Linked DNA regions of Homo sapiens: region 1 is linked to region 2. The links come from fine-mapping of genetic effects on gene expression. A gene starts in region 2. The other region holds a variant in brackets. All regions are shown on one strand. Distances are from middle to middle.

Evidence for each region. PIP is the estimated chance that this variant, and not a neighbour inherited with it, causes the effect.
Region 1: its variant is the best candidate, but not a certain one, in a credible set for the expression of LRRC58 in whole blood (INTERVAL, PIP 0.70).

What each region holds. Positions count from the first base shown.
Region 1 is chr3:120,313,499-120,317,754 of GRCh38, forward strand. No RefSeq gene overlaps it. Among named protein-coding and RNA genes, the nearest start is that of GPR156, 30 kb to the left of the region's middle. RefSeq lists an enhancer at 1-454. The variant A/G (reference allele first, on the strand shown) is at 1,812.
Region 2 is chr3:120,347,097-120,351,352 of GRCh38, forward strand. It overlaps LRRC58 (leucine rich repeat containing 58), which reads right to left and starts at 2,258. Exons shown (of 4, transcript NM_001099678.2): 1 at 1,648-2,258. The coding sequence starts at 2,147. It also overlaps the pseudogene BTNL12P. RefSeq lists an enhancer at 1,524-1,573 and a silencer at 1,924-2,253.

The DNA.
Region 1 (4,256 bases), 34 kb before region 2:
GGTGTGATGATGACTTCTCAAGTTCTTGCTGCTAATCCTTTGATTCTATGTTTTCTTAGAACTAGAAAGAAATTCCTGGCTCTCTCTCTAAGATGGCCAACTACACGCAGCCAGGAGGAACATCTCCCCCCAAGGGACTAGGACATCCGAAGACTGGCAGACCTTGTCTGACCAGCAGAGTGCTCCAGCAGAGTGGCCCCTATGGACACACACCAGCCTGCCTGTGCCCTCCCTCCACTGCAGCCTCCCCCATGCCACTTTGACTGCATGCACTTGCCCACAGCCACCCCCTGCATCACTGTGCCAGTGTATGTGTATGAAGGCAGACTTTGCCTTACCTTCCCTGCCAGTATGTGTGGGTGTGTGCACCCTGCCATGTCACTGCTGCCAGGGTGACTGCACCCTGCTCCCCTCCCCCGTCACAATGCCATTGTTGTCAGATGGTGGTGAGCATGGAGCTTGCCAGTCCTACCCCTGCAAGTGCCCTGCCTCTGTGCCAACACTGCCACTGGCACATAACTAGTCATGGAGAATAGTGAACCCACCCTTGCTCTGACCAGCCACTGCTGTGGGTGTGAATGTGCACAGAGACCTCACACAGTCCTGCACCCTCCAGTGCCCCAACCCTGTACTAATACCACCACCAGAGGAACATGCACACAGCCCCATGAAGGCTGCCACCCTAGTACCCACTAGTACCCTGCTGTAGCTGATGAGCATGCAGTATGCATCCCACCATGCTGCTGCTGCTGCTGCAGCTGGCACAGGCAAATTAGGACAGATCACACTGTCACCCTGCTATGATGTGCTTTGGATGGCATCACCCATTAGAGTATTGTGACCAGTAGTCTGGGAACACCTTGGCCCCTCCAGCACAATAGGTTCATAACCTCGAGGAGCCAGAGAACAAAGTTGGGGCTCAATACCAGTCTCCCAGAGTTAGAACATGCAGTCCAGGAGTCCTGAGCTGAAGCTTGGCCCCCTAAAATCTTCCAGAAATGAAGTCAGTCACCTGAACCCAACACTACTATAATCAGGTCCCCAAGGTCACCAAATAGGATAAAGACAAAAAAGACAGCAACTTCAAAGATGGAAAGAATAAAAGCCCACAAATATAAGAAAAAACCAGCACCATAACTCTGACAACTCAAAAAGCCAGAGTGCCTTCATTCCTCCAAACAACTGTACTTGTTCTCCAGCAAGGGTTCTTACCTGGCTGAGATGGCTGAAATGACAGAAATAGAATTCAGAATATGGATAGGAATGATCATTGAGGTTCAGGAGAATGTTGAAACCCAATCTAAGGAAGCTAAGAATCACAATTAAATGATACAGAGCTGGCAGACAAAGTACCCAGTATAGAAAGAATATAACCAACCTGAAAGAACTGAAAAACACTCTACAAGAACTTCATAATGCAATTGTAATTAATAGCACAATAAACCAAGCTAAGGAAAGAATCTCAGAGCTTAAAGACTGACATTCTGAAGACAGACAAGAATAAAGAAAAAATATTGAAAAGGAATAAACAAAACCTCCAAGAAATGAGGGATTATGCAAAGAGACCAAATCTATGACTCACTGATGTCCCTGAAAGAGAGACTGGTACCAATTTGGAGAATGGTACCAATTTGGAACATATATTTCAGGATATCATCCAAGAGAATTTCCCCAACCTAGCTAGAGAGGCCAACATTCAAATTCAGGAAATGCAAAGAAACACAGTAAGATACTTCACAAGAAGATCATCCCCTAGACACGTAATCATCAGATTCTCCAAGGTCGAAATGAAAGAAAAAAATTTAAAGGCA[A/G]CTAGAGAGAAAGGCCAGGTCACCTACAAAGGGAAGCCCATCCAACTAACAGCAGACCTCTTGGCAGAGACCCTATAAGCCAGAAGAGATTGGGGCCTATATTCAACATTCTTAGAGAAAATAAATTCCAACTAAGAATTTCTTGTCTGCCCAAACTAAACTTCATAAGCAAAGGAGAAATAAGAAATTGCAAATGCTGAGGGAATTTGTTACCACCAGACCTCCCTCAAAAGAGCTCCTGAAAGAGGCACTAAATATGGAAAGACCATTACAAGCTACTATAAAAACACTCTTAAGTACACAGACCAGTGACACTATAAAGCAACCACACAAAGAAGTCAGCATAATAAACAGGTAATGACATGAAGACAGGATCAAATCCACACATATCAATACTAACTTTGAATGTAAATCGACTAAATGCTCCAAGTTAAAGAGACAGAGTGGCAAGCTGGATAAAGAAGCAAGACACAATAGTATGCTGTCGTCAAGAAACCCATATTATATGCAATGACACCCATAGGCTCAAAATTAAGGGATGGAGAAAAATTTACCAAGCAAACAAGAACAAAAATAAAAAAAAATAGGAATTGTAATCCTAACTTCATACAAAACATACTTTAAACCAACAAAGATCAAAAAAGACAAAGAGGACATTCCATAATGGTAAAGGGTTCAATTCAACAAGAAGACCTAGCTCTCCTGAATATATATGCACCCAACACAGGAGCACCCAGATTCATAGAGCAAGTTCCTAGAGACCTTCAAAGAAACTTAGACCCCCACACAATAATAGGGGGAGGCTTCAATGCCCCATTAACAGTATTAGACAGATCATTGAAGCAGAAAATGAACAAAGATAATCAGGACCTGAACTCAACACTGGACCAAATGGACCTCATGGACATCTACAGAACTGTCCATACAAAAACAACAGAAAATACATTCTTCTCATCAACACACATTCTATATCAACCACACACTTGGACATAAAACAATTCTCACCAAATGCAAAAACCCCAAAATTACACCAACCACTCTCTCAGACCACAATGCAATAAAAATAGAACTCAAGACTAACAAAATTGCTCAAAACCATACGATTACTTTGAAATCAAACAACATGCTCCTGAATGACTTTTGGTAAACAATTAAATTAAGGCAGAAATCAAGAAGTTCTTTGAAACTAATGAGAACAAAAAAACAACATACCAGAATCTCTGGGACACAGCTAAGGCAGTATTAAGAGGGAAATTTATAGCACTAAATGCCCACATCAAAAAGTTAGAAAGATGGCTGGGTGCAGTGGCTCATACTTGTAATCCCAGCATTTTGGGAGGCTAAGACAGCAGATCACTTGAGGTCATGAGTTTGAGACCAGCCTGGCCAACATGGTGAAACTGTCTCTACTAAAAATACAAAAATTAGCCAGGCGTGGTGGTGCATGCCTGTGATCCCAGTTACGCAGGAGGCTGAGGCAGGAGAATTGCTTGAACCCTGGAAACAGAGGTTCTAGTGAGCTGAGATCACACCACTGTATTCCAGCCTATCATAACTAAATAACTAGAGAAGCAAGAGAAAACCAACCCCAAGCTTAGCAGAAGACAATAAATAAGCAAAATCAGAGCTGAACTGAAGACAATTGAGACACAAAAAATTCAAAAGATCAGTGAATCTAGGAGCTGACTTTTTGAAAAAGTTAGTAAGATAGACTGCTAGCTAGACTAATAAAGAAGAAAATAAAGAAGATCCAACTAAACAAAATTAGAAAGGACAAGGAGGATATTACTACTGACCCTACAGAAGTACAAATAACTATCAGAGACTACTATGAACAACTCTATTCCTCCAGACTAGAAGAAATGGACAAATTCCTAGATACATACAGCCTCGTAAGACTGAACTAGGAAGAAACTGAATCCCTGAACAGACTAATAACAAGCTCTGAAATTGAATCTGTAACAAATAGCCAACCAATCAAAAAAGGCCCAGGACCAGATGGATTCACAGCCAATTTTTACCAAATATACAAAGAAGAGCCGATACCACTTCTACTGAAACTATTCCCAAAAACTGAGAAGGAGAGACTCCTCCTCAACTCATTCTATGAAGCCAGCATCATCTTCATACCAAAACATGGCAGAGACACACACAAAAAAGAAAACTTCAGGCCAATATTCTTGTTGAACATTGATGGAAAAATCCGCAACAAAATACCAGCAAACCAAATCCAGCAGCAAAAGCTAATCCACCACTATCAAGTAGGCTCTATCCCTGGGATGCAAGGTTAGTTTAACATATACAAACCAATAAATGTGATTCATCACATAAACATAACTAGACAAAAACCACATGATCATCTCAATAGATGCAGAAAAGGCTTTCCATAAAATTCAACATCCCTTCATGTTAAAAACTCTCAACGAACTAGGTATTGAAGGAACA
Region 2 (4,256 bases):
ATAGAACTCATAACCACTGTAATTAAATAATGAGGTTCATAGTTAGTTGTTTAATGTCTGTCTCCTGGATCATGTTCACCATTGTATCCCCAATACTTGGGACAGTGCCTGACACAGGGCAGGTATTCAATAAATATCTATTGAAGAGTAAATGAAGAGACATCTTGCCCAAATGCTTCATTTGTAGATTAGAAAGCTACAGTTAGGATACGCTACAGTTAGGATACAAGTGACTTGCCTAAGGCTGGAGCACCAAGAGTTCTTTTTTCCCAGGCCAATATTCTTTTTTTTTTTTTTTTTTTTTTTGAGACAGAGTCTCGCTCTGTCGCCCAGGCCGGACTGCGGACTGCAGTGGCGCAATCTCGGCTCACTGCAAGCTCCGCTTCCCGGGTTCACGCCATTCTCCTGCCTCAGCCTCCCGAGTAGCTGGGACTACAGGCGCCCGCCACCGCGCCCGGCTAATTTTTTGTATTTTTAGTAGAGACGGGGTTTCACCTTGTTAGCCAGGATGGTCTCGATCTCCTGACCTCATGATCCACCTGCCTTGGCCTCCCAAAGTGCTGGGATTACAGGCGTGAGCCACCGCGCCCGGCCTTCCCAGGCCAATATTCTTTTGCTCCACTTAACTCTGAGGTCCCTTCTACCTTTAACGTTCTGTTATCTCTGAAAATACAATAAAGTGTGAAAATATCTTACAGATGGAAGATACCTCTTTTTCGTTTTGTACAATACATTTGGCTCTATTTCCCACTCCCCCACCGGGCACTTTTATTATCCTGTTTCTCTGCTTCCTCCTAAAGTTAAATTTAACATATTTACTGCATAATCTAGTAGGTGAAGCAGATAATTCCTGTAAACAAGGAATCATATCCAATAAGGTAAATGCAAAGGCAAGATGAATGAAGCACAGAGAAAGTACAGCATAGGCTGTACTTTTTTGTGCAGGGAGTAGTAACGAAAAAAATTGTTGTGCAGGGAGTAGTAAAAAAGGAATCACAGAGATGATTAACTTGAGATAGCTTTTGAAGGATGATAGGCGTTTGCCAGGTGAAGGAAACATTCCAAGCAAGGGAAACAGCACGTGTACAGAGGCACTGCATCCATTCAACACATACTGAGTGCCTACCAGCAACTCCAAGCTGCTTTCTCTACGTGGGAAAATGCATAGGTCACTGAACTCCACAAATGGTAGTTGGTACTGCCACAGAGAAGAGGAAGCTGCAAATGTAGTGGAAAGCAAGGGTTAGATCAGAGCACCTTGTACGCCACGCTCAAAGGCACGTACTTTGATCTATAGAGATGGAAATCCACGGAAGACTTTTGAGCAAAGAAGTGACAACCTCTGATTTACATCTGTTTTGAGTTTCCACTCAGTTTGGATCACGCCCCAGATTCAATAAGGAAGACAGAAAAAATGCCTCGAGAATCTGCATAGGCCAAACACAACACACCAAACAGTCACACATGCGAACATACTAGGTATTTACAACAACTTGCTGAGATGGTTGGGCAGAACTCACTACCGCACAGTTAAAGAGAAAGCTTGGAAATAGTTACGTGACAAACGTTGAGGTGCCCAGGCCCGGCGCCCCAGGGTTCCCGGACACCGCCCGAGGCCTCCCCACCCTCCGGCACACACCCGCTCACCTCTGCAAGTTCTCGATCTCAGCCGGGATGCTCTGCAGTTGGTTGCCGCCCAGGCTCAGGGTCTGCAGCGCGCGCAGCTCTAAGAGCGAGGCAGGCACCTCCTGGAAACAGTTGCCGCTGAGGTTGAGCACCTGGAGGCTGCGGCAGAGCGGCGACTGGGCCAGGCCCTTGGGCAGCGCACTGGGCCCGCCGAGCCGGTTGTTCTTGGCCAGCAGCGTGCGCAGGCCGCGCAGAGCGAGCAGCTCCGGCCCGAGCGCGGTCAACGCGTTGCCGCTCACGTCCAGCAGCTGGAGGTGCGGGAAGCCGCTGCCCAGCGCCCGTGGCAGCGACACCAGACGGTTGTGAGGCAGCAGCAGCCGCAGCAGCGCCTCCCGCGCCCCGCGCCGCTCCTCCCCCCGCGCCTCCAGCTCAGACTCCAGCGTCTCGGTGGACACGCTGAGGCGGGACCAGTTCAGTTCGGCCTCCCCGGCCGTGACCACCGCTGCTCCGGCCTCCTCCATCCTGGCCACCGCACGGCGCGTGGCGCCGGATTCCCCAGAGCGCCGCGCGCGGTCCAGAGGCCGGGAGCTCTGCGGCGCCCCGGAACCTGAACCGAGGGCTGAGTCGGAAGTGGCGCGGGCGGGCGCAAACCCTGCGCGCCTTGGCCGAGTCACGCGACGCGAGTCCTGGGGTGCGCGCGCCGCTCCGGGGCGGGCTCTGCCTCACGAGGCGCGGGGCGCGGAGTGGCAAGAGCGCAGCATGGGCTGCGCAGAACTGAGGCAGACACCCAGAGGCTGCCAAATTGTCATCTGAGCCGGACCGGGTTTCGGCGGCCGCGCTTTATAGTCGCTGGAGCCTGGTGACCTATTCCAGGGCTACAAGACTGCCTCGGCAAACAGCCCAAGGATGTTCGGTTATCTCGCCTTGAGGGTTCGCGCGTCACGTGCCCCCCCCGTCCCCCGCTTGTTTTTCAGTTTAAAAGTGGGGCCCGTGTCTGCAGGACTCTGTGAGCACACAGTAATTTAGTGGTGATTTAGCTCCATGACAGAAAACCGCAGGAATTTAAAGTCCGAGGATTAACAAAGCCGACCTCGAAATGTGAACGCAGCTGGACTAGACCTCAGAACCCCCGGACCCTTACTGGAGGTTCCGCTGTTAAATAGCCTAGGGCAGGGATTTGATTTCAGTTGCCCCATGCATAAAATATGGGTAACACCCGCACTACTTGCCCCACAGAATTATTTTTTTCTTTTTTAAGGCAGAAATGTGTATCAAGTAAGGACGTTTTGCCCGTTTTAATTGTAGAAGCACATACGTGGCTTTTGGTGTAAGTTGTGTCTAGGAGTGAATTTGGGAGATATGGAGGCGGTTGCATGATTTGAGATAGCTCAAATTAATGAGTTAGTTTAAAAACTCAAAGCATAGAGTTTGTACTGCAGGTCAAAACTACAGTTTGGGAAAATCCTGATCTGGTACTAATTTAGTAATTCTAATTAACGTATTTTTCATCCTTGTCCCAAACTCAATCTTTTCTGAAATTACATTTTATGATTTTGAAAAGTAATGAATAGAAATGAGAAAAAATGCTTAGCTTTTTTTTTTTTTAACAAAGCTTATACATAAGAAAGTTAAGTGGTCGTGTATAATCAACGACATTAAATTGCTTTCCTCCTTAAAAAAGGAAAGTCGTTTTTTTCTTGCCAGTCATTTATTTGTATGAGAAACTATGCCTTTACTCTGCAGTCAAACTTTAATTTCTGATTGAGTGGTAGTCCTAGAAGGACGTACTTTGTATGTTTAAGCTAATGGTGGAATGCTTTTTAAAACTGATGAGTCATCTGTTTTGAAAGAGTCCTTTTAAGAACAGACCTTATTTTGGGTCAAGCCAGCATTCTAACAGTAGTCCTAATATCTGAAAATAACAAATATTTAAAATAATAGTTGTTTTTGCTTTAAAATATTTATCTTGGATTTTAAAAAGTGATAGGAACGTAATGTAAAATGAGAAAAAGAAAGGATTCAAACATAATTCAGAAATAAGAGTTGGCCAGGTGCCATGGCTCATGCCTGTAATCCCAGTGCTTTGGCCCAGGCCAGCAGATCGCTGAGGTCAGGAGTTCCAGACCAGCCTGGCCAACATGGGGAAACCCCGTCTCTACAAAAAATACAAAAATTAGCCGGGCCTAGTGGCGCTCGCCTGTGGTGCCAACTACTACACAGGCTGCTGGGAGGATTGTTTCAGCCTAAGAGGTAGAGGTTGCAGAGAGCCATGATTGTGCCACTGCCCTGCACTTTTTTTTTTTTTTGTCTCAAGAAAAATAAAATAAGAGGTAAGATTACAAATCAGTGGAATTAAAGGGAAAAAGATAACCTCAATAATAGCAAATGAGGCTTCCTAGTAGAAAGTTTGGAAAAAAATACTTAGTATGGGAACTCCACATTATATAGAATAAAGGAAAGGAAGTAGAAAAAAAGTGGTGTAGGTAAAGAAATGAGTAACCTGACAAATTTTGAAAACCTACTGCTTGCAACGCTGTACTAGGAGCTTTTAATTTAATAAAGTCTCCAACTATTTGGTTGTTGAATTTAGGATAAATGTAACCAGACCATTGAGCAGCTAAGATAACTGA